Homo sapiens: one gene and its partners. The protein of the gene in region 1 purifies or fractionates together with the protein of each later gene. This does not show direct contact. Each region holds a gene or a part of one and is shown on either strand. Other genes may lie near its edges. The genes, in order: EPB41L1, VANGL2, SHQ1, CHD9, PPRC1, USP34 and MEX3C.

The links.
Region 2: the proteins of EPB41L1 (region 1) and VANGL2 purify together in Homo sapiens (co-immunoprecipitation; 2 studies listed by BioGRID and IntAct, with this or other methods). This does not show direct contact.
Region 3: the proteins of EPB41L1 (region 1) and SHQ1 purify together in Homo sapiens (co-immunoprecipitation; one large-scale study listed by IntAct). This does not show direct contact.
Region 4: the proteins of EPB41L1 (region 1) and CHD9 purify together in Homo sapiens (co-immunoprecipitation; one large-scale study listed by IntAct). This does not show direct contact.
Region 5: the proteins of EPB41L1 (region 1) and PPRC1 purify together in Homo sapiens (co-immunoprecipitation; one large-scale study listed by IntAct). This does not show direct contact.
Region 6: the proteins of EPB41L1 (region 1) and USP34 purify together in Homo sapiens (co-immunoprecipitation; one large-scale study listed by IntAct). This does not show direct contact.
Region 7: the proteins of EPB41L1 (region 1) and MEX3C purify together in Homo sapiens (co-immunoprecipitation; one large-scale study listed by IntAct). This does not show direct contact.

What each region holds. Positions count from the first base shown.
Region 1 is NC_000020.11:36,189,240-36,192,739, forward strand, and holds part of EPB41L1 (band 4.1-like protein 1), read left to right. Parts: intron 1-1,037; coding exon 1,038-1,135; intron 1,136-1,382; coding exon 1,383-1,558; intron 1,559-3,500. UniProt on the Homo sapiens protein: May function to confer stability and plasticity to neuronal membrane via multiple interactions, including the spectrin-actin-based cytoskeleton, integral membrane channels and membrane-associated guanylate kinases.
Region 2 is NC_000001.11:160,426,867-160,429,170, reverse strand, and holds the end of VANGL2 (vang-like protein 2), read right to left. Parts: 3' UTR 501-2,304; downstream 1-500. UniProt on the Homo sapiens protein: Involved in the control of early morphogenesis and patterning of both axial midline structures and the development of neural plate. Plays a role in the regulation of planar cell polarity, particularly in the orientation of stereociliary bundles in the cochlea.
Region 3 is NC_000003.12:72,810,446-72,813,945, reverse strand, and holds part of SHQ1 (protein SHQ1 homolog), read left to right. Parts: exon of another isoform or gene 1-1,151; coding exon 1,152-1,275; intron 1,276-3,500. UniProt on the Homo sapiens protein: Required for the quantitative accumulation of H/ACA ribonucleoproteins (RNPs), including telomerase, probably through the stabilization of DKC1, from the time of its synthesis until its association with NOP10, NHP2, and NAF1 at the nascent H/ACA RNA.
Region 4 is NC_000016.10:53,302,991-53,306,490, reverse strand, and holds part of CHD9 (chromodomain-helicase-DNA-binding protein 9), read right to left. Parts: intron 2,772-3,500; coding exon 1,866-2,771; intron 258-1,865; coding exon of another isoform or gene 255-257; coding exon 94-254; intron 1-93. UniProt on the Homo sapiens protein: Probable ATP-dependent chromatin-remodeling factor. Acts as a transcriptional coactivator for PPARA and possibly other nuclear receptors. Has DNA-dependent ATPase activity and binds to A/T-rich DNA.
Region 5 is NC_000010.11:102,139,540-102,143,039, forward strand, and holds part of PPRC1 (peroxisome proliferator-activated receptor gamma coactivator-related protein 1), read left to right. Parts: coding exon 1-2,465; intron 2,466-3,500. UniProt on the Homo sapiens protein: Acts as a coactivator during transcriptional activation of nuclear genes related to mitochondrial biogenesis and cell growth. Involved in the transcription coactivation of CREB and NRF1 target genes.
Region 6 is NC_000002.12:61,461,088-61,464,587, reverse strand, and holds part of USP34 (ubiquitin carboxyl-terminal hydrolase 34), read left to right. Parts: intron 1-3,500. UniProt on the Homo sapiens protein: Ubiquitin hydrolase that can remove conjugated ubiquitin from AXIN1 and AXIN2, thereby acting as a regulator of Wnt signaling pathway.
Region 7 is NC_000018.10:51,174,050-51,177,365, reverse strand, and holds the end of MEX3C (RNA-binding E3 ubiquitin-protein ligase MEX3C), read left to right. Parts: coding exon 1-1,015; 3' UTR 1,016-2,816; downstream 2,817-3,316. UniProt on the Homo sapiens protein: E3 ubiquitin ligase responsible for the post-transcriptional regulation of common HLA-A allotypes. Binds to the 3' UTR of HLA-A2 mRNA, and regulates its levels by promoting mRNA decay.

The DNA of each region.
Region 1 (3,500 bases):
TGCTCTCCAGGTCATTTTCCTCATAGCTGCTGGAGAGATCTTAAAAAGTCCCTTAAATCAGATCATGGCAAGCCCACTCCCCCTTCCCATCCACACCCTTGCTTACACCTTTCAGGAACTCTCTTTAGCTCTTGAGCTAAACTTCAAACTCCTTCCATGGCCACCTACCTCTCCCACCTATCCCTTGCCACACTGCCCCATGCCCAAGGTGCTTTAGCCTCTTCGGCCTTGAGATCTTTGAATAAGTCGAGCTCTTTCCTGCCTGAGTGCTTCGCATTTGATGTTTCCTTTACCTGAAAGTATCTCCCCCTCTCGCTTCTCACATAGCTGGTTCCTTCCCATTCTTCAAATGTCAGCTCAAGATCACCTAGATCTAGGTCTAGAGGGGATCCCCTGCTCTTCCTTAGATGACAGGAGCCCCTATGCCTTCCCAGTTCTGCTGCACCACACATCTCCCTTCATTCCCCTTGTAGCCCTGATCAGTGTCTGCAATTATCTTGTTTGCTTATTTGTTATTGGAGGTCCCCTTCCCCTACTAGAATCTTCTGCCTTGGTCTCCATGTATCTCTAGTGTTTAGCACTGGACCCGTCACAGAGTAAGGGCTCAATCACCCTTATTGATTCAGTGAATGAACAGGCCAAAGTCGCAGATGCCTGAGAAGAGTTCAGAAAGAATGACTCACGTCTGTAATCCCAGCATTTTGGGAGGCTGAGGTGGGAGGACTGCTTGAGCCCAGGAGTTGGAGACCAGCCTAGGCAACATAGTGAGACTCATTCTCTACAAAAAATTAGCTGGTGTGGTGTCGTCTGACTGTAGTCCTGGCTACTTGGGAGGCTGAGGCAGGAGGATCTCTTGAGCCCAGGAATTCAAGGTTACAGTGAGCTATGATTGCGCCACTGTACTCCACCCTGGGCAAATGATCGAGACCCTGTGTCTCAAAAAAACATTAAACAAATAAAATAAAAAACACAAAGAATGGGCTAGTGGCGAGAGTGAGCTCAGGCCCTGCCTCTAACCTGCCCTTTTGGTTTTCCAGTATGAGCAATTTGAGAGCACAATTGGCTTTAAGCTCCCAAACCACCGGTCAGCCAAGAGACTGTGGAAGGTCTGCATCGAGCATCATACATTCTTCCGGTGAGCCTGACCTTGGATGGGGTAATGGGGATGGGGCAGAGGCCATGTGTATGGAGGGGAGCAGGGGGAGGAGTTAGTGAGAACTCTAGGAAAGTCCTCCACCCTTTCCCCAAGTCCCTCCCTTCCTGGACCACTTTGAATTGTTGTAGTTGGTGGAGTAGTGGGATGAAAGGCCAGCTGTGGTCTAACCTTGGGCCTGGCAGTGCAGGTCTGATTCCTCCTCCTCCCCTGCATCCCTCTGCTGCAGGCTGGTGTCCCCTGAGCCCCCACCCAAGGGCTTCCTGGTGATGGGCTCCAAGTTCCGGTACAGTGGGAGGACCCAGGCACAGACTCGCCAGGCCAGCGCCCTCATTGACCGGCCTGCACCCTTCTTTGAGCGTTCTTCCAGCAAACGGTACACCATGTCCCGCAGCCTTGATGGAGGTATGGCCCAAATTGGAGGGCTGGGCGGGGAATGGTCTTCAGAGGGAACTGGGGGAGTGGGCATGCTGGGTTCTGCAGAATGAGCAGGAAAATGGTAGATGCATCCCAAGTTCATCTGCACCAGGCTGGCCCCTCAAGACCAGTGCTGTCCCTGGGCAGCTCTTGGTGGCTTAGTCCCAACCTAGAGCTCACTCCCACTTGAGATGTGATACTACCACTCTCTGGATTCCCCACAACTTCCCTGAGTCGTGGTCTTTTGGGGTCCCAGGTTTAGCCATATGGTTTGGGCCACCTACCCAAGAAGCTTAGCAATCCACCAGTCTAACCTGTGGTCTAACCTTGGGCCTGGCAGTGCAGGTCTGATTCACCCTCCTCCCCTGCATCCCTCTGCTGCAGGCTGGTGTCCCTTACACTGGTCATCATCATACTAGGAGAATAGTGTCTTATGACTGCAGTGTGGAGCTGATGATGCCTTATCTGCTGGGAGGCCAGGGCATCGTTCTTGGTCATTCTTTTGGTTCTACTAGGTTCTGGGCTGATTGACAATCTAACCACATGGCACTCTCCACTGTCCCCATTTCTATTGGATTGATGGGTGCCCTTAACATCAATGAAAACTGGCCCTATATAGTCCTGTAGCAAGCAGATAGGGCTTAAAATGTGGTGCACAAACCACGTTTCATCAGAGTCGCCTGTGAGATTGTTAAGCAAGCACGAAAATTCCCAGGTTTTGCCCCAGACCTACTAAATCAGCACCCTTCAGGGCCCAAGTCTCTCCCCAGGATGTACACACTAGAGTTTGTAGGTGATGTTCGGAAGTCACATGGGTCACTGGGGAGATTCAGAATTATGCAGATCTGAGTTCAAATCTCGGCTTGACAGTCACCGTGGGCTGTTCTCTGGACACTGGAAGTGGTTCATAAATATCTGAATGAATGGATGGGTGACCTTAAGCAACTTATTTAACTCCCTGAGCCTATTTCCTCTTCTACAAAATACATAGTACCTACTTTGCTGTGTTCTAGGGAAAACTAAATGAGATCATGCCTAGAAAATATTCTGTGGCACATAGTAGCACCTTAAGAAATTGTACCCATCATTATTGTTTTTAGGTTTGTAGAGAGTGGCTTAAAGGTGGGAAGTGGGGGCTGGGCATGGTGACTCATGCCTGTAATCCCAGCACTTTGGGAGGCCAAGGCGGGCAGATCACCTGAGGTCAGGAGTTCGAGACCAGCCTGACCAATATGATGAAACCCCATCTCTACTAAAAATACAAAAATTAGCCGGGCGTGGTGGCATGCACCTGTAATCTCAGCTACTCGGGAGGCTGAAACAGGAGAATTGCTTGGACCTGGGAGGCAGAGGTTGCAGTGAGCTCACACCATTGCATTCCAGCCTGGGCAACAAAGCGAGACTCCATCTCAAAAAAAATAAAAAAAATAAAAAATAAAAAGGCCAGGCACAGTGGCTCACACCTATAATCCCAACACTTCGGGAAGCCAAGGCAGGTGGATCACGAGGTCCAGAGATCAAGACCATCCTGGCCAACATGGTGAAACCTCGTCTCTACTAAAAATACAAAGATTAGCCAGGCATGGTGGCAGGCGCCTGTAGTCCCAGCTACTCGGGAGCTCAGGCAGGAGAATCACTTGAACCCGGGAGATGAAGGTTGCAGTGAGCCAAGATTGCACCGCCACTGTACTCTAGCCTGGTGACAGAGCAAGACTCCGTCTCAAAAAAAAAAAAAAAAAAAAAAAGGTGGAAAGTGGGGACTTGGGTAGGGAAACCGTGGATACTCCCAGAACACCTTGGGGCAGGCCTCCAGGCAAGTTAGTTCTACTTATATTTTCTGAGTGTTATATGTGTGCCAGGCCTTGTGTTGGGTCCTGGGTATAGTATTTAGAGTGAATAGGTTTGGTCCTTTCCTTTGAGGAGCTCATAG
Region 2 (2,304 bases), on another chromosome or scaffold:
TTACAGTGACAACAGAGCACTGAACTCTCTACATATTTAGAACTAATATATATACTACAGAAACTTGTCTCAATGAATTGTGATGGGCTGTCACCACTGACTGAAATCTCAACTATCCCCTGAAATTCCTATGGCACTTTATGTTTTAGAAATACGTTTTAGAAACCCACTCCTGCCCTAGAGGCCATACAGACACAAGCTTGCTCAGGAGGGTGGACCCAGGAAGTAATCTTTCTTTCTCTATCCTGACAACTACACCAGGAAGTGGTTAAGCCCTCACATTGTTGTTTCTCTCTCTTTAGAATCAGGATTCAGAATAAGCAATTTCCTTTTTCATTTTCCCATTTCTCTCCAACACACCCTGAAGGCCTGCAGAGCAATGATGAGCTCACACTGCCCCCTCCTGCCCATTCCCTCCCTAACAAGGAATATATTCATTATTCCCTGGCCCTCATTTGCTCCCATTCCTGTAAAGAAAGAAAAGCAACAGAATGCCCCCACAAAAGTCAAATGTCTTTATTTTATATAAAAAAAATTTGTACAGTTTTAGTTCCTATGTTTAAGAAAAAAATCCTAAAATTGCCGTAATGTTTAGATCCACTGCAAACTGTAGAAACAAGCTTTTTATATATTAAAAAAAATTTACATTTTACAATTTTCTACATGCATGCACAAGGTCTCAGCTCTGTAACCCCACCCCCCCAAAAAAAAGGAAAAAAAATCTAGATCCAACAGTGGAAAATTCTACATTTACAATCTCACTTGGAAGGGACTCAAAAAGCCCTCTTCCTTTTGCGCACGGAAGAACAAATCACAACAATCACACACCAGGACTGAATCCATCAGCAGATACTGCCCTGTGGGAAGGGCAGAGGAAAGAGAAGACAGACGGACTGACAGACACCACAGAGGAACAGGGGAGTTAGCCTGGGACCAATGGAGGAGAAGTACGAACCCTGGGAAAAAGACGTGTCAGATGAGAAAGTTCCGGAGAGTCCGATGTCTCATCGCAGGTGTTACATCATCAGGGTTTGCCATTGGAATACTGAGTGGAGATGGGAAAGAGAAAAGTTAAGGGCTGAAATGGGAGGGGAATGGGAAGAAAAAATGAGAGACAAGAGGGAAATAAGAAAAAACAAAGAGAGCACAAAGACCAGTTTAGGAGAAAGGACCAATGGGGACAGTGGCAGAGTGGCGAGGTAGGTGAAGGACTGAGGCACAGCGTCCTGTTGTGGAGGGAGGAAAGGCAAGCGTTCCGAGGTGGTGAAAAGGAAGGCCTGCTAGGCACGGTGGGGATGAACGAGGATGCCATGAGTCACACAAAAGACAGTGCTGGTGAGGCCCAGCCACAGCAGCCCTATGGTGTCAAGGGGGTAAGAGGTGGGCATACCCCCACAGCAGGAGAATGAGCAGATCCAGCGCATGATGGGACAGACACAGTGGGGAAACTGCTCAGAGGGACTGAGTCAGCTGCACACCCCACAGCAGTTCACAGCATGGAGACAACTTCCCACAGGGGAGAAGCAGAGGACAAACACATGGCCATATGTCTGACAATTCATCCTGACATTTTAAAAAACAATAGTAATAATAATAATAATAATAATAATAATAATGAAAAAAGACAAAGATACCACAGTTCTGAAGCAAAAGACCAAAATGCTACCATTCTCAGGCACAGCCCTTAGTGCTTAGAGAGTTGGAGGCAAAAAATTTTTTTTAGGAAAGGGGAATGAAAAAAAAATCACAGTGATTAAAAACATGGCAGGATCTTAAAATAAACACTCCCCAGCCCCTAACCTAGGGCAGCAACTAAGATCCCAAATCCTTTCCCTCTCCCCCACCCCAACCTGCTCCTCAGACCACACCACACTCCATCCTGTCCACAAAGGCAATGACCCCAGTCACCATCCAGGCCCTGTTTTCCAGGATAGTGAGGTATTTATGTGACTCAGAAGGGACTCTCTGACACAAAGTTTTTGAAGAGAAGAAAAGAGACAGACCCCCAGAACAGGACATATTTCATACAGGCCTATCTCATAACCCTGGCCCCAGCCAGAGGCCCTGCCTAAGTGAGCTCCACAACCCACCCCTTTGGGGACAAGGTAAGCATTGGCCAATGAGCTCCTCTCTAGCATGCGGTGGGTAAACAAGTGAACTTTTGCAGAAAGGACAGCAGGAGAAACCCCGATCACTAGGCTCCATCATTCCCAGGGCTGGTGCTACACAGAGGGGGAGCCTCCCAGGGGAGACACTGGGGATCTTATCCCAGGATGTGCTCTGCAAGGTAAGTACCAACCAGTC
Region 3 (3,500 bases), on another chromosome or scaffold:
ATACCGTTCAAGATACAACACCTTTTTTCCTAGAAATCAGTTTGATAAGCAAAAGCAAATTACTCAAGTAAATGTCTTGTATTACCCATGTCCAGTGCAAAAAAAAAAAAAAAAAGAAAAAGAGGAGAGGAAACTGAACATACTTTACTAAAGAGTTCTATGTATTTTTTTTTTTTTTTTTTTTTGAGATGGTGTCTCGCTCTGTCACCTAGGCTGGAGTGCAGTGGCGCGATCTTGGCTCACTGCAAGCTCCGCCTCCTGGGTTCACGCCATTCTCCTGCCTCAGCTTCCCGAGTAGCTGGGACTACAGGCACCTGCCACCACGCCCGGCTAATTTTGTAGTTTTAGTAGAGACGGGGTTTCATCGTGTTAGCCAGGGTGGTCTCGATCTCCTGGCCTTGTGGTCCGCCCGTCGGCCTCCCAAAGTGCTGAGATCACAGGCATGAGCCACCGCACCCGGCCTTTTTTTTTTTTTTTTTTGAGATGGAGTCTCACTCTATTGTCCAGGCTGGAGTGCAGTAGCGCCATCTTGACTCACTGCAGCCTCTGCCTCCCAGGATCGAGCTATTCTCTGCTTCACCCTCTTGAGTAGCTGGGATTACAGGTGCCTGTCACCACACCTGGCTAATTTTTGTATTTTTAGTAGAGACGGGGTTTTGCCATGTTGGCCAGGGAGGTCTCGAACTCCTGACCTCAGGTGATCCACCCGCCTGGAGTCCCAAAGTGCTTTACAGGCATGAGCCACCACTCCCGGTGAGTTCTACATTTTTGATCTGTGCCATCTTGAATAGCCTTAGCTGACAAAAACATGAAATGTAAATTATATTAAAATGTCCTTTATGTGCATCTGTATTTTGTTAATGCCATGTGTTTTAGATTCTTATTTGTAATCTTTAGGACTTTATTTAAAAGCTTTCTTGTGACATTTGTGATGTATTGATAGTGTGAGAAATTACAAAAACTAAGATTCTGTTTTATTGTAAAGTATACAAAAAGAATCTTATTTCATGGTTTTATGTTTCTCTTCTACTTGGCTTCACAATGATCCGAACTTGCAGCTTTTAAATGAGAAAAGCTTCCTATTTCATTGTGTACTTTTGTTTGTGTAACATTTTGTGGAAATGACTGCTTATTAAAATGACACTTCACAGACTTGGACTAACGTTCATGATATCATGGTGTCTTTTGGAAGAAGGGTGTTGTGTTACCCACTCTATCGCCATTTCAAGCTGGTGATGAAGGCCTACAGGGACACTATAAAGATATTGCAACTGGGTAAGATATTACTGTACTTGCAAATTTGGGAGGGAAAAAGTTGTAAGTTTTTAGTCTGTGAAGATATAATAATGATTTTTGCTTTTTTACTGTATATAAATAAGTAATGAAAAATGAATCCAACCACTTTTAAAGTATAGAATTCCTGTGTATAAGACATATGTAGATAAGTAATTGCATAGAGGCATAATAAAGACTCTTTTCCGAGAGGAGTAAGGAAGGTAAACAGAGAAGGCACACATAGTATTGCAAACCGTTTTACATTATAATAGCTGCATCATTCAGTATTTCTTGGCTGCCTATAATCTTCTAGGCTCTATGGTGGGACTGTGGGTCTAATAATAAAGAAGGCAGAAAAGTTCCCTGCTCTGTTGAAGTTTACAGTTTTGTCAGACAGATGATGGGTAAGTTAGCAATTCCAAAGAGAGTGAAAAGTACTCTGCTGGGAGAAGTCCAGGGATCGTTTAGGAGGGGACATGTAACCTAGATTCGGCATGTCAAGAAAGATTTTCCAACAAAAAGCTCAGCTACTCTGAGCACTTTTGACTTGCTAAATTCAACCTGAAAAGACAAACACTCGTTAGCTTTAAGGATGTGGAAAATTCTGGGCTCTGAAACAAATTCCAAAGTGCCCATAGTATCATCATTAGAATAAGTATATAATTTCCAAGATAATGACTTTGAAGGGGGCAACATCCATTTGTATGTATTAGTTCTGGCACATTTATTTAAAAGTCACTTTTAGTACTTTATGGTCATTTCTTATATTCTCCCCCTGGGGAGACTCATCATTCCTTTGCCCTTAGATAAAAGTGTTTCTGGGAGCTTGGTTTTCAGACTTCAGAATAAGAAGGGGAAAGAAAGGAAGTTCTTCCTTCTACCTCCAGGTGACTTCACTGGCCTAAAGAAGAGAATCACATCTCAAATGTTTTGTCTCACCTGGAAGTGTACTTCGCTTTCTGTGTAACCTGTAGTCTTCTTGCCCTGGTGGTGGGGATGGGGGAAGAAAATCATGTTTGAAATAGATTATTTTAAAGTAGACAGTAATTGTAAAAATGAATCATGGTTAGATGAAAGATGCCTTTTTATTCATCCAGTTGGTTTAGACTAGCTGTATTTTATTTTGAAGGATTGTTGATTATAGGATGAAAGAGCTATCATTGAGAAATCTATCTTCTTTAACTTAACAGTGGGAAACAAACTGCTTTGTTTTTTCATGTGTTATTTCTTCTTGCCTTCCATCTAAGATATTTTTTGAATTGCTAAAAGTACCTTGGAAAATCAATCTACTATAAATGACTGTGTGAGCCTCAGTTACACGTCACAATTCATTTCTTTTTTAAGTCATGCTAGATTATCTGGGCATTATTCATGGACTTAAACCAGTGAGAATGCAGTTTGCGATTATCCTGTTATATCATGGCTTCCAGATGGAGAATTGGCAAAACCTCCACATGCCTGTTTGCACACACACTCACACACTCTCACTCTCACTCACATATACAGACTATTGCTTGTTACTTTTTATTCTGGGAAGTAATCTAGTTCTTTTGACTTTCATTGGAAAAGTAATCAGTACTATGATTGCATAACCAAAAATAAATTCGATTGCCTTGACTTACACAGGAATCAATTACCCAGTTTTAGTAGGTCAGAATTGAAATTGAGACTTAATTTTTATTCATTATCACTCTGACAAGAAATAGTTTTATCAGCTGTGTTATGATAGTAACATAAAACTTGAAGTAACACACTGGAGGCCTCTGCTAAAAATGAACCTGAACCCTCTATGTACCATGTACAGTGTGTTCTGTGACTAATTTGGGTTGTGGCTAGTTAGTGCTAAAACTGAGGGCTGGGTTGTCTAGAATTTGTGCCAGAAGCTGTAGAGATGACATGTTCTGGATGAGAATCGTCACCTGTCTTTGTACAGGTGGATGGCACGGGGATGCCATTATTGCCGCTGAAGAGGCTCATTTGTTTGAACACCCCATAATTTAAATAAAGGTAGCTCTGGTTTGGCATTTAGTGTTTTCCAAGAATGAATTCATGCCTACTTATAATTCAAAATGCAGTCAGTGTTCACACTTTTTATTATAAAGGTCAGTATAGTGTTCCATAGTTGAAAGTAATGAATAACCCTGGCTCCAAAGAAGGATTGATCTTAAATGGAATGAGCTTTCAAAACCAATGTAGGAATGCTTCAGAAACTACAGAATATTTCA
Region 4 (3,500 bases), on another chromosome or scaffold:
CCTATGTTTCCACATAGTAAGAATATCTACCATTGAAGCAATATAGAAAAATACTAAAAAATGACCTATCCCAATAAGAAATTATTTCTTTACCTTTGGCCAATACGAGGCTGCCAGCATATATCCACCTTGTAAGATATAAGCAGACTCTGGTGTCCCATTGTTCATCTGAAAACTATCCTGAGTCTCATCCTGGGTAGTGCTCAGTGACGCGACGCTTTCTTCATCATAGGCTTTCATGTGAGTAGTACTTTCTGCTAAAAACAATTATAATCATTTTTTAAAAAGACTACATAAAATAGTTTTATATATAAGGATTTTACATAATTATTCAGAAACACCTGAAAATGAAAATGTTAGAAGTAAAAACAAATGATAAAAAAAGAGAAAAAATCACCTAGAATATAAAAAAAGCACCTATCATTATTATTAAGAGACAGGGTCTTGCTGTGTTGCACAGCCTGGACAGAACTCCTGGGCTCAAGCAATACTCCTGCCTCAGCTTCTCAAGTAGCTCAGATTACAGGTGTGCACTACGCCTGACTTCATTACTCACTATTTTTAAAATGATTCCTGATTGGTAGACTTCATCTGGATTGGCAGAACTATAAATACCTGATGAGGATACCATAATTCTCTTGATTAGGTGACTCTTGTAACTCTTAGAATTGGGCATGTTTCTTGCGGCAACCCCGAAAGTTATGCCTATGGAGTTGTTACAAGAGACCCCAGCTCCTGCTCATGTTTAATTGGACTCATTTTCTTGCCCCTGAACTGGTGGACTGCTGCAAGGGTTCCTGCAGAAGGGGACCACCAAACACTGTTCTGCTGACAAGCATTTGTCATGGCTGACAAATAAATGGCTTATGATATTCTCATTAGCTTAAGACTCTTGGTGACTGCTATATAATATTATCTTTTACTTGTTCACTAATCAACTTGTTCCTGGGAAAAATATTCAATTTAAGACAATCACAAATAAACTACTGTGTAAAATTTCTAATTCAATTGCCTGATTAATCTACTGTGTAATGCCTTGAATATTAAACAGGGAATTTGTATCAGTAACTAGTTTTCTTCCCAATAGTGCTTTCCTAAGAACATTTGTATATATAAAACTTAAGCAAACAGGCCAGGTGTGGTGGCTTATGCCTGTAATCCCAGCACTTTGGGAGGCTAAGGCGGGCGGATCACCTAAGGTCAGGAGTTCGAGACCAGCCTGGCCAACATGGTGAAACCCTGTCTCTACAAAAATACAAAAATTAGCTGGACATGGTGGTGGGTGCCTGTAATCCTAGCTACTCAGGAGGCTGAGGCAGGAGAATCGCTTGAACCTGGGAGACAGAGGTTGCAGTGAGCTGAGATCGTGCCATTGCACTCCAGCCTGGGCGACAGAGCGAGACTCCGTTTCAAAAAAACACTGTAAGCAAACAATTTTAAACATCCTTAAGTTACCTGAAACGAGTTCTTTTCATTTTCACTTGAAAAGTTATATTAGGCCAGGCCTGGTGGCTCATGCCTGTAATCTCAGCACTTTGGGAGGCTGAGGCGGGTAGATCACCTGAGGTCGGGAGTTTGAGACCAGCCTGACCAACATGGAGAAACCCCGTCTCTACTAAAAATACAAAATTAGCCAGGCATGGTGGCACATGCCTGTAATCCCAGCTACTTGGGAGGCTGAGGCAGGAGAGTCGCTTGAACCCAGGAGGTGGAGGTTGAAGTGAGCTGAGATTGCGCCATTGCACTCCAGCCTGGGCAACAAGAGCAAAACTCCATCTCAAAAAAAAAAAAAAAAAAGAAAAGAAAAGAAAAGAAAAGAAAAGAAAAGTTATGTTAAAAAAGTAGAATTATTTTATGCATAGTACCTCGTTTTTGGGCTTCTTCTTCATCACTGTCACTTTCTTCTGATGAAGATGAAGAGGAGGAGGAGGAGGAAGAGGTGGAGGAAGAGGATGAAGAAGATGCTGAAGAACAAGATGAAGATGAAGAAGAACTAGAGCCTGATCGAGAGTGGGAGCAAGAAGAGGATGATGAGGAAGAAGATGATCTGGAAGAACAAGATGATCTCTCAGAATCTGAGTCAGAATCAGAACTAGATTCTGATCCCCTTTTGTGGACTCTTGGTTTCTTAGAAGCTGGGTTTGGAGTTAGGGGTTCTGTTCTGGCTGCAACCATGCGTCTGTCTGTTTCACATTTTCCACCAGATTTCTGGTCTCCAGTAGCCTGTGGTAAAACACCATTCTTTGGACTTACAGGCTCAGATTTTATTAGTGTCCTGGTTTCCACAGAAGACATAGATTCTTCTTCAGAAGACTGAGGCTCCTCTTTAAGGTTTTCACTTTTAACTTTCATCTCCTCTAGAATAATACCTTTAGCATCTAGGAGCCTAGGTAGAGAGGTAAGAGGAGAAGCAGAAAGTGCTACTTGATATTGCTGTAGAAGTGGGGTAGAAGTCCTTGAATGAGCCATCTTACTTTGACTGTAGTTCCTCTGAGCTGCCATAAATGAGAGTTCAGGATCACGAAGAATGTGATAGTCTGTTCGGCTCACCCCGTGTTTGGCAGCACCAATAAGCAAATCCCTATCATGAGGGCCACATTCCCACCAGACTGGTAAATCTGGATTTGGATGGCAAAGCTTCAAGCGTTCAAACAACTGTGGATGTCGAAGGGCCTGTTCCCGTACTTTCCTTAGAAGTTCAATGCGATACAAAGTCCTAGAAGCACGTTCTTCTGTGATGGGCTGGATAAAAATATTTGGATCCACCAATTCTACATATTGAAACAAGGACAAAAATATTAATCTCAAAAATCCTTTATTTATAAATAAATCATTATAAATACATCTTTATATATTTATAACAATACCATTTCTAAAATGTGCCTCCATGCAATATCACTGTATAGTTTCCAGAATTTCTTTTCAGTGAGGAGAAATTCAGTGAGGATTTTGAAATTTTGAAATTTCAGTAAAAGCTTTAAAAAGGAGAAAGTTTTAAAAGTAAGTACTAAAAATCATGTAACATAAAATACTGGATGTTAATGTAAAACATAAGATTATTTTGGAAGTACATTAATAGAACTGGGAATTTTAAGAAATTCCCTATGAGCGATGCATTTAATAACATTTGTCTTAATAACACAAACACTTGCTCAAACTCACTTATAAATTAGAAGTGTTCAGGGTTGTCCAATCTTTTGGCTTCCCTGGGCTGCATTGTAAGAGGAATTGTATTGGGCCACATATAAAATACACTAACACTAACGATAGCTGATGAGCTTAAAAAAATTGCAAAAAAAAAAAAAAAACTCATAATATTTTAAGAAAGTTTACGAATTTGTGATGGGCCGCATTCAAAGCTGTCCTGGGCCACAGGTTGGACAAGCTTGTGTTAAGTGATACTCCATAAACAAATGTAAGCTGGCATATCTCAAACTGCAAAAGGTAAGAGGACATTGGAGTGAACTCACAGGGGCAACAAGGGCTTTCTCAAATTTCTA
Region 5 (3,500 bases), on another chromosome or scaffold:
AGTGCTGGAGATTGTGGGGCAGGCAGCCACAGCTGGCGATGACCTGGAGATCCCAGTTGTGGTGCGACAGGTCTCTCCTGGACCCCGGCCTGTGCTCCTGGATGACTCGCTAGAGACTAGTTCTGCCTTGCAGCTGCTTATGCCTACACTGGAGTCAGAGACAGAGGCTGCTGTGCCCAAGGTAACCCTCTGCTCTGAGAAAGAGGGGTTGTCATTGAACTCAGAGGAGAAGCTGGACTCAGCCTGCTTATTGAAGCCCAGGGAGGTCGTGGAGCCGGTGGTGCCCAAGGAGCCTCAGAACCCACCTGCCAATGCAGCACCAGGTTCCCAGAGAGCTCGAAAGGGCAGGAAGAAGAAGAGCAAGGAGCAGCCAGCAGCCTGTGTGGAAGGCTATGCCAGGAGGCTGAGGTCATCTTCTCGCGGGCAGTCTACTGTAGGTACAGAAGTGACCTCTCAGGTAGACAACTTGCAGAAACAGCCTCAGGAAGAACTTCAAAAAGAGTCTGGGCCTCTCCAGGGTAAGGGGAAGCCCCGGGCTTGGGCTCGGGCCTGGGCAGCTGCCTTGGAGAATTCTAGCCCTAAGAACTTGGAGAGAAGTGCTGGACAAAGTAGTCCTGCTAAAGAAGGCCCTCTAGACCTCTACCCAAAGCTGGCTGACACTATCCAAACCAATCCTATACCAACCCATCTCTCATTGGTCGACTCTGCCCAAGCCAGCCCCATGCCAGTTGACTCTGTTGAAGCTGATCCCACTGCAGTTGGCCCTGTTCTAGCTGGCCCTGTACCTGTTGACCCTGGGTTGGTTGACCTTGCTTCAACCAGCTCAGAACTGGTTGAGCCTCTCCCGGCTGAGCCAGTGCTGATCAACCCAGTCCTGGCTGACTCAGCAGCAGTTGACCCTGCAGTGGTTCCCATCTCAGATAACTTGCCACCAGTTGATGCTGTCCCGTCTGGCCCAGCACCAGTTGATCTAGCACTGGTTGACCCTGTTCCTAATGACCTGACTCCAGTTGACCCAGTGCTAGTTAAGTCCAGACCAACTGATCCCAGACGTGGTGCAGTGTCATCAGCCCTGGGGGGTTCAGCACCCCAGCTCCTCGTGGAGTCAGAGTCCTTGGACCCACCAAAGACCATCATCCCTGAAGTCAAAGAGGTTGTGGATTCTCTGAAAATTGAAAGTGGTACCAGTGCTACAACCCATGAAGCCAGACCTCGGCCTCTCAGCTTATCTGAGTACCGGCGACGAAGGCAGCAACGCCAAGCAGAAACAGAAGAGAGAAGTCCACAGCCCCCAACTGGGAAGTGGCCTAGCCTTCCAGAGACTCCCACAGGGCTGGCAGACATCCCTTGTCTTGTCATCCCACCAGCCCCAGCCAAGAAGACAGCTCTGCAGAGAAGCCCTGAAACACCCCTTGAGATTTGCCTTGTGCCTGTAGGTCCCAGCCCTGCTTCTCCTAGTCCTGAGCCACCTGTAAGCAAACCTGTGGCCTCATCTCCCACTGAGCAGGTGCCATCCCAGGAGATGCCACTGTTGGCGAGACCTTCCCCTCCTGTGCAGTCTGTGTCCCCTGCTGTGCCCACACCTCCCTCGATGTCTGCTGCCCTGCCTTTCCCTGCAGGTGGGCTTGGCATGCCCCCCAGTCTGCCCCCACCTCCCTTGCAGCCTCCTAGTCTTCCATTGTCTATGGGGCCAGTACTACCTGATCCGTTTACTCACTATGCCCCCTTGCCATCCTGGCCTTGTTATCCTCATGTGTCCCCTTCTGGCTATCCTTGCCTGCCCCCCCCACCAACGGTGCCCCTAGTGTCTGGTACTCCTGGTGCCTATGCCGTGCCTCCCACTTGCAGTGTGCCTTGGGCACCCCCTCCTGCCCCAGTCTCACCTTACAGTTCCACATGTACCTATGGGCCCTTGGGATGGGGCCCAGGGCCTCAACATGCTCCATTCTGGTCTACTGTTCCCCCACCTCCTTTGCCTCCAGCCTCCATTGGGAGAGCTGTTCCCCAACCTAAAATGGAGTCTAGGGGCACTCCAGCTGGCCCTCCTGAAAATGTACTTCCCTTGTCGATGGCTCCTCCCCTCAGTCTTGGGCTACCTGGCCATGGAGCTCCTCAGACAGAGCCTACCAAGGTGGAGGTCAAGCCAGTGCCTGCATCTCCCCATCCGAAACACAAGGTGTCTGCCCTGGTGCAAAGTCCCCAGATGAAGGCTCTAGCATGTGTGTCTGCTGAAGGTGTGACTGTTGAGGAGCCTGCATCAGAGAGGCTAAAGCCTGAGACCCAAGAGACCAGGCCCAGGGAGAAGCCCCCCTTGCCTGCTACCAAGGCTGTTCCCACACCAAGGCAGAGCACTGTCCCCAAGCTGCCTGCTGTCCACCCAGCCCGTCTAAGGAAGCTGTCCTTCCTGCCTACCCCACGTACTCAGGGTTCTGAAGATGTGGTACAGGCTTTCATCAGTGAGATTGGTGAGTGACACACAGTTCCCCCATGTAGTCCCCAAGTTGGCTGGGGGACTCTAGAATAGGATAAGCCACCCTGATGAGGCTGGCCTTTGTTGGATTTCTTTGGAGGAGTTTTTTTGTTTTTATTTTGAGATGGAGTCTTGCTCTGTCTCCAGGCTGGAGTGCAGTGGTGCAATCTCGGCTCACTGCCTCCCAGGTTCAAGCAATTCTCCTGCCTCAGCCTCCCAAGTAGCTGGGACTACAGGTGCCCGCCACCACGTCTGGCTAATTTTTCTATTTTTAGTAGAGACGAGGTTTCACTATGTTGGCCAGGTTGGTCTCAATCTCCTGATCTCGTGATCCGCCTACCTCAGCCTCCCAAAGTGCTGGGATTATAGGCGTGAGCCGCTGCACCATGCCTTTTTTTTTTTTTTTTTTTTTTTTTTTTTTTTTTTTGAGATGGAGTCTTCCTCTGTCGCCCAGGCTGGAGTGCAGTGGCGTGATCTCGGCTCACCGCAACCTCCGCCTCCCGGGTTCAAGCGATTCTCCTGCCTCAGCCTCCCCAGTAGCTGGGATTACAGGCACTCACACCCACGCCCGGCTTTTTGTATTTTTAGCAGAGATGAGGTTTCACCATGTTGGCCAGGTTGGTCTCAATCTCCTGACCTCGTGATCCGCCTGCCTCAGCCTCCCAAAGTGCTGGGATTACAGGTGTAAGCCACCGCCCTTGGCCTGTTTTTGTTTTTAAGAGATGAGGTCTCACTGTGTTGCCCAGGCTGGACTTGAACTCCTGGGCTCAAGTGGTCCTCCCACCTCAGCCTTCCAAGTAGCTGGGATTTATAGGCACAGGTGTGTGCCACCGTGCCTGGCTGTGGAGGGTTCTTCAGAGGCAGAGCCCTGGGTTGGTTTGAATCCTTCATGCTTTGTGCTGCTACCTTGGTTCACTTAGTACAGAGGGCAGGGGGAGTGGAAAGGGAGAAGTGAGATGATTTGGGGGCTTCCTGGGACCTGTGTACTAAGTTGATAGGGGCTCGTTTTCAATCCTGTGTTGTGTGCCTC
Region 6 (3,500 bases), on another chromosome or scaffold:
TATGTGTTGTAGATTTTACTCTGTGTATTCGTTTGGTGGGTTATAGTTTACCAAGTTGTCCAAAATGGATAATTCATGTGAGATAGGCAAGAGCAAGTGTTGTATCCCAATACCATTTGGTGAAAAAGTTGAACTTCAGAAAGGATAAGTAGTTTGCCAAGATCACCTGTCAACCTGCATAGTCAAATTTGAGATGGAACTCAGCTACTCCAATATCTGTATTTGCAGAATAATTCTGTTGTGTTTATTTTGTTGGTGGTGGTGTTTTTGAGACGGAGTCTCACTCTGTTGCCCAGGCTGCAGTGCAATGGCACGATCTCAGCTCACTGCAACTTCCACCTCCTTGCTTCAAGTGATTCTCCTGCCTCATCCTCCTGAGTAGCTGGAATTAGAGGCGCCTGCCACCACGCCCAGCTAATGTTTGTATTTTTAGTCGAGACTAATTTTCACCAGTTTGGCCACACTGGTCTTGAACTAATGATGTCAGGTGATCCACCTGCCTCGGCCTTTCAGTGTGTTTTATTTTTAAAGCAGATTACTTTATTGAATAGTTTGTGTTGGGTACTTAAGTACTTTACATGCTTTGCATGCTGCTGATTTAATCAGTTCTTTGAGGGAGGTACTCTGTCATCCTTTTCAGATGAGGGAACTAAGGTTTAGAGAATTTATGTGACTTGCTTAGGGTCACATGTGACTGTTTGGTGGAACCACAGGACTTAATCCCAGATTAGGCTAAGAGTTTTTTTTTTTTTTGAAAAGGAATTTTGTTCCTGTTGCCCAGGCTGGTGTGCAATGGCATGATCTCGGCTCATTGCAACCTCCGCCTCCTGGGTTCAAGCGATTCTCCTGCCTCAGCCTCCTGAGTAGCTGGGATTACAGGCATGCACCACCATGCCTGGCTAATTTTTGTAATTTTAGTCGATGTGGGGTTTCACCATGTTGGCCAGGATGGTCTTGAATTCCTGACCCCAGGTAATCCGCCTCCCTTGGCCTCCCAAAGTGTTGGGTTTAGGGGTGTGAGCCATCCTGCCTGGCCTAAAAGTTCTTACTAGTTAACATTGTATAAATTTTATGATGATCTATCTGAATCACCACTGTTCAGTTGGCAAAGTGAAAATTACTGACCGTGTTTTATGTATCTTCAAAAATTCAGACAAATTTCTGTGATAATTGTAGTAGGAATTCAAAAGTGGTAATAAGTATAGCTGAATAAGAATCTTTTTCATTGAATAAAATTTCAAATTTTTTGATTTTTGATTATTTTTTAAGAGACAGTGTATCACCCATGCTGGGGTGCAGTGGCCCAATTATAGCTCACTGCAGCCTCAAGCTCCTGGGCTCAAGTGATGCTCCTGCCTCAGCCTCCCAAAGTGTTGGGGTATGCTGTACCCGGCTGAGAATCTTTCTTAATACTGTTATTCTGCAGTGAACCGTTTAATAAAACTACATGTTTCCAGAGCTTTTTAGATACTATGAGTATATAGGTACGAAATCAATTAGTAACATAACTTTTTCAGTAGACATTTAATCTAAAGTTGGAATTTTTTTCCCCCCTTTGGAGATGGAGTCTTATTCTGTCATCCAGGCTGGAGTGCAATGAAGTGATTATTGCTTACTATAACTTGACCTCCTGGGCTCAAGTGATTTTCCTGTCTCACCCTCCTGAGTAGCAGGGACTATAGGTGTGTATACCAGCACACCTGGCTGCCTTTTTTTTTTTTTTTTTGGGAAACAGTTTCCCTCTGTCTCCCAGGCTGGAGTGCATTGGTACAGTCTCGGCTCACTGCACCCTCTGCCTTGGGGGGCTCAAGCAGTTCTTGTGCCTCACCCTCCCAAGTAGCTGGGATTATAGGCATGTGCCATCATGCCGGGCTAATTTTTGTATATTTAGTAGAGATGGGGTTTCGCCATGTTGGTCAGGCTGGTCTCAAACTCCTGGCCTCAAGTGATCCGCTTGCCTCAGCCTCCCAGAGTGCTGGGATTACAGGGTGTGAGCTACTTTGTCCGGTTCTCCTGAATTGATTTTTTTTTTTTTTTTGGAGACGGAGTCTTACTCTGTGGCCCAGGCTGGAGTGCAGTGGCATGATCTTGGCTCACTTCAACCTCCTCTTCCTGGGTTCAAGCAATTCTCCTGCCTCAGCTTCCCAAGTAGCTGGGATTACAGGTGCGTACCACCATGCCCAGCTAATATTTGTGTTTTTTGTAGGAATGGGGCTTCACTGTTTTGCCCAGGCTGTTCTCAAACTCCTAGCCTCAAGTGATTCACCCACCTCGGCCTCCCAAACTGCTGGGATTACAGGCATGAGCCACCACGCCTGGCTGATTTTCTTTTTTTTTTTTTTCCCCCTGAGATGGAGTCTTGTTCTGTTGCCCCAGGCTGGAGTGCGATGGCCTGATCTTGGCTCACTGCAACCTCCGCCTCCCGGGTTCAAGCGATTTTCCTGCCTCAACCTCCTGGGTAGCTGTGATTACAGGCAACTGCCACCATGCCTGACTAATTTTTGTTACGTTTAGTAGAGATGAGGTTTCACCATGTTGGCCAGGCTGGTCTTGAACTCCTGACCTCATGATCTGCCCACCTCGGCCCCCTAAAATGCTGTGACTACAGGTGTGAGCCACCGCGTCTGGCTGAAAACATGTTTTTGTATAAGATTTCATTTTATATAAAATTTAATATATCTGTTTCCAGTTCTCCCATATTATGAATAATGCCGCAAATGTACATCTTTCTACTTAAATCTTTTATCTACATCCCTGGTTCTTTTAGATTTCTAGACGTGAGTTTACTGTGTCAAAAAATATAAACATTTTTCATTATTTTCATACTGTTTGCTTGCCAGAAAGGATATATTGATCTTTTAGTCGTAGTCGTGCCTGTGTAAGGGCACTTTCACCTGTCTTGAATATTATCCTTTAGAAAGTGTTATTTTAGCAGGGCATGGTGATGTGTGCCTGTAGTATTCCCAGCTACTCAGGAGGCTGAGGTGGGAGGATCACTTGAGCCCTGGAATTCAAGGCTAGCCTGGGCAACATAGCAAGACTTCATCTCTTAAAATAAAAGTTATTTTGGTAGAGAATGTATTAAGCAATTACTAGTAAATTTAACCATTCATATTTTTGTTATTTAATGAATTGTATGTTTTTTTTTCTGTATTTCAGATTTCAGTGTTTTGGGTTTTTTTTTTTATTTTTTTGAGGCGGAATTTCGCTCTTGTTCACTAGGGTGGAGTGCAATGGTGCCATCTCGGCTCACTGCAACCTCTGCCTCCCAGGTTCAAGTGATTCTCCTGCCTCAGACTCCCGAGTAGCTGGGATTACAGGGGCCTGCCACCATGCCTGGCTAATTCTTTTGCATTTTTAGTAGAGACAGGGTTTCATCCTGTTGGCCAGGCTGGTCTTGAACTCCTGAGCTCAAGTCATCCACCTGCCTCAGCCTCCCAAAATGCTGAGATTACAGTTGTGAGCCACCCTGCCCGGCCCCTCTTACCTTCTTTCAAAAT
Region 7 (3,316 bases), on another chromosome or scaffold:
TCTGCCCGGTCAAACCACCGTCCAAGTCAGGGTCCCTTATCGTGTGGTAGGATTAGTGGTTGGACCCAAAGGAGCAACTATTAAAAGAATTCAGCAGCAGACCCACACCTACATAGTAACTCCGAGCAGAGATAAGGAACCTGTCTTTGAAGTGACAGGGATGCCTGAAAATGTTGACCGAGCACGGGAAGAAATAGAAATGCATATTGCCATGCGTACAGGAAACTATATAGAGCTCAATGAAGAGAATGATTTCCATTACAATGGTACCGATGTAAGCTTTGAAGGTGGCACTCTTGGCTCTGCGTGGCTCTCCTCCAATCCTGTTCCTCCTAGCCGCGCAAGAATGATATCCAATTATCGAAATGATAGTTCCAGTTCTCTAGGAAGTGGCTCTACAGATTCCTACTTTGGAAGCAATAGGCTGGCTGACTTTAGTCCAACAAGCCCATTTAGCACAGGAAACTTCTGGTTTGGAGATACACTACCATCTGTAGGCTCAGAAGACCTAGCAGTTGACTCTCCTGCCTTTGACTCTTTACCAACATCTGCTCAAACTATCTGGACTCCATTTGAACCAGTTAACCCACTCTCTGGCTTTGGGAGTGATCCTTCTGGTAACATGAAGACTCAGCGCAGAGGAAGTCAGCCATCTACTCCTCGTCTGTCTCCTACATTTCCTGAGAGCATAGAACATCCACTTGCTCGGAGGGTTAGGAGCGACCCACCTAGTACAGGCAACCATGTTGGCCTTCCAATATATATCCCTGCTTTTTCTAATGGTACCAATAGTTACTCCTCTTCCAATGGTGGTTCCACCTCTAGCTCACCTCCAGAATCAAGACGAAAGCACGACTGTGTGATTTGCTTTGAGAATGAGGTTATTGCTGCCCTAGTTCCATGTGGCCACAACCTCTTCTGCATGGAATGTGCCAACAAGATCTGTGAAAAGAGAACGCCATCATGTCCAGTTTGCCAGACAGCTGTTACTCAGGCAATCCAAATTCACTCTTAACTATATATATATACATAAATACTATATCTCTATATGGACTCGTAAAGGCATGGGTATAATGGTACCCCCCAGTAAACTTCCTAATGATTTCTTATGACTGTTATCAGGCTTTATTGGGATTAGGCTAAAGTTGTTAGTAAACTTATAAAAGGCTGCTATGGTAACACTAAACCTAAGTGGTCTCTTGTCTATTAGTTTGGTTTGAATTATTAGTACTATCCTGTAGACCCAGAGACATAGTTTATATAAGAATTGCTAAAGCTGAAGTTCAACTTGGCTGAGTGAAGATAATCATAGGTTGTGTGAGCCTATGAAAAAGTGTATACGTCTAAGATTTCAAAACAATGGGTCCCAAAGCCTAACCACTTTAAGAGTTTATGGAGGGTACTTGGCATTACAGACGATTCATACACTTCCAGTGCTGCCTTCTTTACACTGCCAGTTTTGACAAAACAGGTTTGTTTTTTATTTTACAACAACATATGCCTAATTCTGCAGGATTGCAAGTAACTTTTTAATGCATTGTGATTACTTATTGGTAATGATAGGGCTGATGGCAGTTTACTAGATCACTGGTTATAATTTGGGACAAAAACTGCTACATCAACTTTCATCTCGCCCAGAGTGCTCAAGGCTGGTATGATCAGTGGATCAGGAATGCAATTGTGAATTCCTGCCCATTGCCTCTCTTGGTGAATGTGGAAATGGCCACCTGGGTTTTCCCATATCAGGAAGGGCTTTGGGATGGCACCTATATTGGCTGATAATTGAGGATGCAAACATTCCATTCATTAGTGTGATCGAGCTGTTAATTTTTAGACTATAGATCAAAATGTGAAACATTTTATGTTCAATCCATATTTGTCTTGCACATTATAAATATATTTTTATTTTTTAGTAATTTAGGGGAGGGAGGAGGGAGAAAGGGATAATGATGCCCTTGGCATAATTCACAAAAGCAGCTGTGACAACCTCCAATCAGTTTACTTCATTTCAAAACTATTTCCAATCACAAGGAAAGATTTATTTAAAATATACTCGTACATTTCACCTGTGGATGTCTATAACTTCATCCTCAGTATGTTCCCAAATCTGTGCTGGCATTGAAAGGACAAAACATTATACTAGTGGGTTTTTCTACTAATTATTTTTTGAAGCATTATTTTCCCAACACAAAAGAGCTTTTTTCTCGGTATAATGAAAATTGAAATCCTATGTGTATTCAATAGTAAATAGACAAATTTTATTTTTTATTTCCACTTGAAGAGTTACATTTCGTATAAAAGTTTACAAATAACGGTTTTTATTTTGATTTTTTCAGTATAAAAAAAGTTGCCTTGATGGCATATTATGATGTAATGCTAATTGCTTGTAGGATAGTAAATGGTCAGTATTGAAACCTAATCTCTAGCTGCCGTCTTGTAGATATGAACGAATGTTCACCAAGCATGTATTTTGTATTTTGTTGCATTGTACACTGCAACTAATAAGCCAAGGAATCGACATATATTAGGTGCGTGTACTGTTTCTAAAAACCACAAACTAAGAATGATAAATTATCAATATAGTTTAGTATTTGCTAATTTTACTACACTCTTTTGTTATGTATATGTAGGGAAGTCATAGGGATTATAAATTCAATTTGAGTAAAATTTAAAACCATATATTTTATGATAAAGGGCCTTTAACTTAAGATGGCCAAAGCACTGATATTATATATTTGCTGTAAAGAGAATTATAAGAGTTTTATTTTTCTGATATTAAAAGTTACTTAATAAAGACTTGTTTCCATTAACTTGAATGTATTCTCCTTGGTGTTTTTCATATAATCATCAGTTTATACTAGAAGATTAGTTAACAGAATCGAAAATTTTCTTTTATAGACTCCCTATTCCCCAACCAGCTATCTGTGCTCACTCTTGTAGTTATTTTGTGTGTGTGTGCTCTTGGTTTTGAATGTGTCGCTTATGTTCCTGTCCAAGTTTAGTTTTTTCTTTAAATGAGTGTTAAATTACAGTAAACTGGAAATTTGGCTGGTTGTAGATTTAGTTGCATATTTGTGTAGTTGACCACAAACCACTACTGATCTAATTGTAAATAGTTAATGACTTTTTTTATACATTATTACTTGAAATCCTGAATTCAACTTAAATTCTACTTGGTTTGCATCCTTTGTTTATGGATTTTTGTCTTTTTATCACCAAATCTGTAAAACAAGTTCTTTTCTAATACAAAAGCACCAGTTTACCTTTCAGTAAAAACTACCTTCTGAAAAATTGACAAAAATATTTCTCCATTTAT